Regions from separate parts of the Homo sapiens genome. Here region 1 is linked to region 2. A link means that fine-mapping ties the variant in region 2 to the expression of a gene that starts in the linked region. Tissue or cell type: tibial artery. Region 2 holds a variant in brackets; the other region holds the start of a gene. All regions are shown on one strand. Distances are from middle to middle. Region 1 holds the start of HCRTR1 (hypocretin receptor 1). Region 2 overlaps TINAGL1 (tubulointerstitial nephritis antigen like 1).

The links. PIP is the estimated chance that this variant, and not a neighbour inherited with it, causes the effect. A credible set is the group of variants that fine-mapping cannot tell apart.
Region 1: HCRTR1 starts here. The variant in region 2 is the best candidate, but not a certain one, in a credible set for the expression of HCRTR1 in tibial artery (GTEx, PIP 0.88).

Annotation. Positions count from the first base shown.
Region 1 is chr1:31,615,148-31,619,524 of GRCh38, forward strand. HCRTR1 (hypocretin receptor 1) reads left to right here and starts at 2,542. Exons shown (of 9, transcript NM_001525.3): 1 at 2,542-2,734; 2 at 3,609-3,669; 3 at 3,904-4,244. The coding sequence starts at 4,046. RefSeq lists enhancers at 1-232, 2,458-3,147.
Region 2 is chr1:31,586,321-31,590,697 of GRCh38, forward strand. TINAGL1 (tubulointerstitial nephritis antigen like 1) reads left to right here. Exons shown (of 12, transcript NM_022164.3): 11 at 390-435; 12 at 519-1,366. The coding sequence ends at 659. Among named protein-coding and RNA genes, the nearest start is that of TINAGL1, 12 kb to the left of the region's middle. The variant GC/G (reference allele first, on the strand shown) is at 2,320.

The DNA.
Region 1 (4,377 bases), 29 kb after region 2:
GATCTGTTGCTTGTGATGGCAGGAATCTCTTAGGATATCCCTTGACCTGGGGAGCAGCCATCTTTGGGGCACCAACGGATAAAGGGTGGGGGAAGGTTGGCAATTGAGATCCCTCTTAAGTGGAGATGGGACTGACTCTGTGACATTGTATACTGGGGGGAATTCTCAGCCATGATTTCCTCCCTACACAGACATGCACCACCCTGTATCATGACATGGGGGAGCCTGGCGAGCCCCTTGCCCACTCCAACCCATGGTATCTGGGAGGCCCTGTAATATGGAGATCTGCACTCTGGGCTAGGTTCTAAGCCTGGGCTGTGCTGGGCTTGGCCAGTGCCTACCGCCCACACAGACAAACATGGATCTGTACCTTCCACACTGCGGGCTGAACCTTGTTTGCCGCAACTGTTATTGGAGTGTCCCCACACGATCTGCCTCCCATCCCCCTACATGCTGCAGCCCCCTCTGCAGCCCCTACATAGCAAACAATCACAGCTCCAGGTAGGGGGGAGAATGTGGGGGGATAAGATGAGTCATTGCCGTGGGAACAGATGTACCAAGTTCCACATATGCACACTCACAGAACCTTACACACAAAGGCATGGCCACACTCACATTCCCACACTCACAGGGAAACACGCTGGGAGGCCAGTGCTAGTCAAAGCCACAGTTGAACATTCAGATCCACACTGAGAAACAGTCATCTCCTCACACATACACATTCCCCATAGACACAAACGCCAAAACACAGGGACAGATCAAGACCCAGACAGACACATCCCACCCAGAGTGACCTCCAGTCATCAACCCAGAGCCCACCCCCTGCTCATATGCACAGTCAGACTCAAACACACTGGATTCCCTAGACACACACCACAGCCCTTACTTGAATTCAAGACTCAAACACAAACACACACTCATGCACACATATGCAGACATGCACACACCCACACATTCACACATGCACACACGCACACACACACACACACACACAGCAGCCCCTCTTCTGAGTCCCTTCACTCATTCTCCTACCTCGGCCAGCACCTAGGGAAGACAAGACATCACACACCATGCAGATGCCATACCTGCCCAAGGACAAAGTTCTGCCTTGGGTTTAGCTTCAGTCCATCCTCCTGTTCTGCAGAGGTTAAGGTCACTGGCCCCCTCCCTTATGCTGCTCCAGTTCCTCTCCCACACCTCCTATGCCTAACGGCGCATCTTCAGAGCCTTTGAAAAGGGCTTTGGCTGCAATGGGAAAGATGGTGGTTGCATCCCAGGAGTCACCTCCCAGGAGGGAAACAGTGTGAGTTTCAGAGGGTGACATGTTAGGAATGTCCTATGCTGAGCTAGGGGATGGCCAAGGTGACTGCATGATGCTCAGGCAGTCACCCTTCACCTACCTGTGATTTCCAGAATCCCCAACCTTCAAACCTTTGCACCTGCTGTTTCCTGACCTTGAATGCCTCTCCTCGAATACCACAATCCCCCTTGCAGGCTACCTTCTTATTCTTCAGGTCTCCATGGAGATGTCCCTGCTCCAGGAAGCCTGTTCTCATGCCCTGGCTGAGTCGGTCTGTCCTCCTGTGCCCCACAGCCCCCAGGGCCCTCACACCCTCCTCACACCACAGGTTAATTGCCTGGGTGTGCACCTGCCTCCCCCACCAGCCAGAGAGATTTTGCAGGGGAGGGAGACTGTGTCTGGTGAGAGAGGCTAGAGGCCTGAGAGGGGCAGAGGCTCAAAGCCCAGCTCTGCCTCTGCTGTGCGACCTTGGGCAAGTCATTGCGCCATGTGGATCCAGTGTCCTTATCTGTAAAATGGGGACAATAACGACCACCTCACCAGGTTGATATGAAGATTAAATGAGAGCAGGCATCATATGCATTATCCAAACGGTAGCTGTATTATTAGAACTCACTGCCTAGCACACAGCTTAATAAATCGTTATTTGTGGAATTAACGAACCCCCACTTCTGTCCCCACCGGCGTCCTTGATTTTTGGGGGGAACAGTAGGTATAACAAAAAGAGAAACTGGGGGCAGATAGGATGGGGGGCTGGGAGATGGGAGAACAGGCTTCTCTGGCATCGTTGGGAGCTAGCTGTTACAGCAGCATCCGGAGCTAGGCTGGAGGCGGTGCAGGCATCCTCTCTGTCTCACCCCTGTGACCCACCTGTGCCATCCTCCTCCTCAGTTAGGTGAGGCAGCAAGGAGAGGCGGGGCTGGGCTCCACCTCTGCACTGTGGCCCTCTGAAGCTGCCAGGCCCGCCGGCACACACTAAGTGCGCCCAGAATGCGGGGTGGCCAGGGGCATAAATGTTGAATGAATGAGGATGGAATGAATGAACGGATGGACGCATGAATGGAGGTGGGATGGAAGCTTGAAGTGGGAGGCTAGAAGGAACGAGCGTCTCCCTCCGCCCTGCGGGTCTCGGGGCTGGAAGACAGGGAGCCAAGACCGTCTGGGGGCTCCCACCCCGCCCTGCCCCTCCCGCCGGCCCTCCCTCCCCGCAGCGCGCAGCCCGGCGGAGCCCGCGCCGAGCCACAGCCCGCGCAGTTGCCGCGGATCGTGCTGAGCCCCGCGAGCCGAGGCAGCGCAGCCTAGGGAGGGGGCTGCCCCGGCCCCCTCCTGCAGTCCCGGCCCCTAGAGGCTCGGCCTTCCTCGCAGGAAGGCGAAGTCCCCGGTGCCAGGTCCGGGGACCAGCAGCCGAGAACGCCCGGGTCCCGGAGCCAACAGGTGCGGGGTGTGGGGGACCCCCAGGCCTGGGATGGGGGTTCCAAAGGACCCGCGGCGAGGGATGGGAGGAGCCAAGAGTCTCGGGGGGTAACCTGGGTGCTGGGAGACTGGCTCCTCGGCCAGCGCTGCTCTCCTCTAGGCAGGCTCCGAGTGCCCTCGCTCCCCCGCGCCTTCCCGGAGCCCCGCCAGCCCCCGAGGTGCAGGAAGGTCCCGCGGACGGAGCGGGCCTGCCGGCGTTCAGTGGGGTATGAAGGCGTCCCCTCCCCTTCCCCAGGGGTCTCCAGGGATCCGCAACCCTCCGGCACCTGGCCGGGGTCGTCCTAGCCCAGCCGGGGGAAGGAGGGGCTGAGTGCGGGAGGAGGGGAGGGGCGGGGAGCTGGGCTGGCTGGATTTATGAATGGAGAGCGACCCGCGCGCCGGAACAGCGGCTCCTGGCGGCCGTCGGGGAGCGTCGCGGCCCTGGGGACCCAAAGGGGCCTCTTAGGGGGCCTGGATGCTCCCCTTGCTCGCAAGGGGTCGTCAGTCCCTCCGCGCACCACCCCCACTGTGTGTGTGTTGTATGTGTGCGTGTCCGCGAGTGCCCACCGGAGGGTCTGGCAGGTATGGCGGGTGGGGCTTGGGTCTCTAACACCTCCCTTGGCCCGTTTTCCCAACCCAAAGTTAAAGCCTCTGAACTGGCTCAAGAAATATTTGCAATCGGGATGGCTTCTCCTCCCAAATCTACGGTGTTTGGTGGGTTCGAACAGACCTGGCTTAAGAGCTTTGTGACCTTGAGCAAGAGACTCAATCTCTCTGAGCTTCGGTCTCATCTGCAAAGCAGGGTACCCTAATAATGGTAACCGGAAACGTCCCCGAAACTACCTTCTCGTACCAGGTTCTTGGTGAAGCACTTGGCACGCATCGGAGCTCATTACTCCTCATCGTGGTCCTGTAAGGTATGTAGGGCTGTCACCCCATTAGACAGATGGGGAAACCAAGGCTGAAAGAGGCCAGGTAAGCTACCCAAGGCAACTGGTGTGGAATTGGGATGCAACCCAGGTCTGTCTTCCTCCACCAATTTCATGACTGTGAGAATTAAGAGGGAACTTATACGCAAAGCGCCTGGCACAATCCCTAATGTTTCCTTCCTTCTCTCTTTTCCCACTCCCTCCTTTCCTTCCTCCCTTCAGGAAGTTTGAGGCTGAGACCCGAAAAGACCTGGGTGCAAGCCTCCAGGCACCCTGAAGGGAGTGGGCTGAGGGCTGGCCCAAGCTCCCTCCTCTCCCTCTGTAGAGCCTAGGATGCCCCTCTGCTGCAGCGGCTCCTGAGCTCATGGAGCCCTCAGCCACCCCAGGGGCCCAGATGGGGGTCCCCCCTGGCAGCAGAGAGCCGTCCCCTGTGCCTCCAGACTATGAAGATGAGTTTCTCCGCTATCTGTGGCGCGATTATCTGTACCCAAAACAGTATGAGTGGGTCCTCATCGCAGCCTATGTGGCTGTGTTCGTCGTGGCCCTGGTGGGCAACACGCTGGGTAGGTCCAGGGCTTGCCCGGCAGTGCTGCCGGCTTTCCCTGGGGATTGAAGGGGGTTGTGTGGGAGGAGGGCTCGCTGATTAGGCAGAACTAGGATGGGTGTGGCTCTGCCACCAGCTTCACCTCGCTGCAC
Region 2 (4,377 bases):
CCCATATTCTCAGAGTGTCTTCCTTCTGGCCCTTGGCACCTACCCCTCCCTGGATCCCCAAGTGAGGGAGGGCAGGTGGATGTGTGGTCCCATAGAACTGGCCCCTAGGAGGTGGGTCTCTGGAGGACCCAGGTTCCCTCCTCTTCTGCTCACCTTGCCTCCACTTGTCCCCTTGGTGCCCCACCCCCTCCCATGCTGGGCCTGGGTGCACCGACTTACAGATGTGAGAGTGAGGGAGATGCAGAGAGGTACAGAGACCTGCCTGAGCCCTAAGGGTGTACCCAACCCTCCAAAGGCAACTGGGGGCTGGATGGGGCAGGTTTCCGGGATTGGAGCTCCTGAGAGCAGGTAGACCCAGCTCCCTTCCCCCTCCTCTGCTCTGCCCACAGATGGGGAGAGGAGACGCTGCCAGATGGAAGGACGCTCAAATACTGGGTGAGGCCGCTGACCCTTTCCCCGCCCCCTCTTCCCCTCGCCCCACTCCCATTCCCCTTCTCACCACCCCTCCTTATTCCCAGACTGCGGCCAACTCCTGGGGCCCAGCCTGGGGCGAGAGGGGCCACTTCCGCATCGTGCGCGGCGTCAATGAGTGCGACATCGAGAGCTTCGTGCTGGGCGTCTGGGGCCGCGTGGGCATGGAGGACATGGGTCATCACTGAGGCTGCGGGCACCACGCGGGGTCCGGCCTGGGATCCAGGCTAAGGGCCGGCGGAAGAGGCCCCAATGGGGCGGTGACCCCAGCCTCGCCCGACAGAGCCCGGGGCGCAGGCGGGCGCCAGGGCGCTAATCCCGGCGCGGGTTCCGCTGACGCAGCGCCCCGCCTGGGAGCCGCGGGCAGGCGAGACTGGCGGAGCCCCCAGACCTCCCAGTGGGGACGGGGCAGGGCCTGGCCTGGGAAGAGCACAGCTGCAGATCCCAGGCCTCTGGCGCCCCCACTCAAGACTACCAAAGCCAGGACACCTCAAGTCTCCAGCCCCACTACCCCACCCCACTCCTGTATTCTTTTTTTTTTTTTTTTAGACAGGGTCTTGCTCCGTTGCCCAGGTTGGAGTGCAGTGGCCCATCAGGGCTCACTGTAACCTCCGACTCCTGGGTTCAAGTGACCCTCCCACCTCAGCCTCTCAAGTAGCTGGGACTACAGGTGCACCACCACACCTGGCTAATTTTTGTATTTTTTGTAAAGAGGGGGGTCTCACTGTGTTGCCCAGGCTGGTCTCGAACTCCTGGGCTCAAGCGGTCCACCTGCCTCCGCCTCCCAAAGTGCTGGGATTGCAGGCATGAGCCACTGCACCCAGCCCTGTATTCTTATTCTTCAGATATTTATTTTTCTTTTCACTGTTTTAAAATAAAACCAAAGTATTGATAACTACAGTGTCTTGGAACCTCTGGGAGTGGAAAGCCAAGCCAAAGTTGGGCTGGCAGTGGTTAGACAGCAGAAAGGACTGCCTGAGGTGTTGCTGGTTGGCAGGGGTGGGGGGACTGGAAATCCTAACTTCCATTCAGCCCTAATTGTCAATGCCCTGGGCACTGACCCACTTGGGGGAGGGGCATGGATGGCATGGCCTTTGGCCCTAGAGAGAAACCTGAACCGTGGGAACCACCTTTCAGACGCTGAGTCAGCTGCCGCCTGAAGGGGGAGCCCTGCACTCCTATCAGCTGAACCGGTGCCAGTGCCCAGCAGGCAAGGGGGGCACAGCCCTCAGAAGCTGGAGCCTCTGTCTCTGTAGATCAGTCTCTCCAAGCCATCCAGGCAAGGGGGGCCTCTCCTCGGCCTGCTCTTGGGCCAAGCTGAGCCTGCTTCCCACCCCACCTCCTCAGATTCCCAGTGCCAGCACAATAAGCCAGGCCTCAGCCTGGCTCCAAGGCCATCAGAACCCACCCGCCCAACCTCGTCACCAGCTCCTTGCTGCCTCTCAAATGCCCGGTACACATGCAGACTGCCAGACATTCGCTCACGCTGCTCTCCGGGCCAGATGCCCTTCCATGCCACCCACCCCTTGTCCCGCTCCAAGGTTCCTTCTTCCAGACAGTGCCTGTGAAGGTCACTGAAGTGCCAGAGGCTGTGCAAGGAGCCCAGGCCACCCCATCCCCATCCGGCGTGGGTTAGACCCTCCCTCAAATCATCTGCACTCTGCCCTTCACCCAATATTTCAGGTATCTGGGATCTATTGAACTTCCGCATTATGCTGGAAGTTCCTAGAGGGCAGGGATGGTCTGTTTCATTAGTGGGTCCTGGTACCCACACCGAAACCCTGGTATAGGGTGGCCCTCCAATGTATGGAATGACTGAGTGGATATGGCCCATTCTTTCACCTCCAG[GC/G]CCCTCCCAAGCCTCCACTGCGTCCCCCCGGGCACAGACGCCAGGCTGGTGCTCCTTCCTTTCTGGGAGCCCAAGGGCCTGTGCCTGGGAGGGGGATCCCCGAGCGCAAGGAATCCTCCCCGCCGCCACCTCCAGCCAGTGGGGAGGCAGGGGCACCCTCAGTCGCCGAGGGACTGCGGCAGGGAGGTCCCCGGGGGCCCCTGGCAGCCCCTCAGGATCGCCGCGTCCCCCGGGCCTCACGGGCATCACCTGAAAGGAATGCGGGCGCCGGATAAGTGGCCGCCTTTGTCTCGCTTCCTGTTTGCCAGGACGTCCAGAGCCCGGCTCCAGCGGCCCGCCCGCCGGTCCCCAGGGAGCCAAGGCCGGCGGGGAGCCCCGAAGGGGCGGCGGCCCCTTCGCACCCGCTCAGTGGCCCCGGGACCCGCCCCGCCGGTAAAACCCGGTTCGGAGGCAGCTCGGTGGCCCCGCGAGGCTGGAATTTTCTACGGGTACCTTCCAAGGAAGCTCTGGGGGGCGGGGACGGTCGGGCGCGGCCCGCCGGGTCTCAAGGCTGAGGCTAAGGCTCCGGCTCCAGCTCCGCCCGCCCTGGCGCTGCGGACCCGTGTTGATGCCAGAAAGGGGTCCAGATCCAGACCCCAAGAGAGGGTTCTTGGATCTCGTGCAAGAAAAAATTAGAGGTGAATCTCTGCAGTAAAGTGAAAGCAAGTTTATTAGGAAAGTAAAGGCATAAAAGAATGGCCACTCCGGCAGGGCGCGGTGGTTCACGCCCGTAATCCAAGCACTTTGGGAGGCCAAGGCGGGCGGTTCCCGCGGTCAGGAGGGGCCAGGCTGACCCCCCAGTGTCAGAGACCTCTGAACCACAGCAACTCCATCTTGAATAGGGGCCGGGTAAAATAAGACTGAGATCTACTGGGCCGCATTCTCAGACAGCTAGCCATTCTAAGTCACAGGGTGAGATAGGAGGTCGGCAAAAGATACAAGTCATAAAGATCTTGCTGATAAAACAGGATGTGGAAAGAAGCCGGCCAACAGGCGCGGTGGCTCACGCCTGTAATCCCAGCACTTTGGGAGGCTGAGGTGGGCAGATCACGAGGTCAGGAGATCCAGACCAGCCTAACCAATGTGGTGAAACCCCGTCTCTACTGAAAATATAAAAATTAGCCGGGCGTGGTGGTGTGGGCCTGTAATCCCAGCTACTCAGGAGGCTGAGGCAGGAGAATCGCTTGAACCCGGGAGGCGGAGGTTGCAGTGAGCTGAGATGGTGCCACTGCACTTGAGCCTGGGCAACATAGCGAGACTCCATCTCAAAAAAAAAAAAAAAAAGAAGAAGAAAAGAATGGCTACTCCGTAGAGCAGCCCCAAGGGCAGCTGGTGTCCCATATTTATGGTTCTTTCTTGATTATCTGCTAAACAAGGGGTGGATTACTCATGCCTCCCCTTTTAGGGTCACTTACTGACATTGCCATGACATTTGTAAACTGTCATGGCACTGGTGGGAGTGCAGCAGTGAGGACGACCAGAGGTCACTCTCGTGCCATCTTGGTTTTGGTGGGTTTTGGCCGGGTTCTTTTTTTTTTCTTTTTTGAGATGGAGTCTTGCTATATTGCCCAGGCTGGAGTGCAGTGGTGCGATCTCAGCTCACTGCAAGCTCTGCCTCCCGGGTTCATGCCATTCTCCTGCCTCAGCCTCCCGAGTATCTGGGACTACAGGCGCCCGCCACCATGCCCGCCACCACACCAGGCTAATTTTTTTTTATTTTTAGTAGAGATGGGGTTTCACTGTGTTAGCCAGGATAGTCTCAATCTCCTGACCTCGTGATCCGCCCGCCTCGGCCTCCCAAAGTGCTGGGATTACAGGCATGAGCCACCGCACCTGTTGACCGGCTTCTTTCCACAGCCTGTTTTATCAGCAAGATCTTTATGACTTCTATCTTTTGCCGACCTCCTATCTCATCCTGTGACTTAGAATGCCTAACTGTCTGAGAATGCAGCCCAGTAGGTCTCAGCCTTATTTTACCCAGCTCCTATTCAAGATGGAGTTGCTGTGGTTCAGAGGTC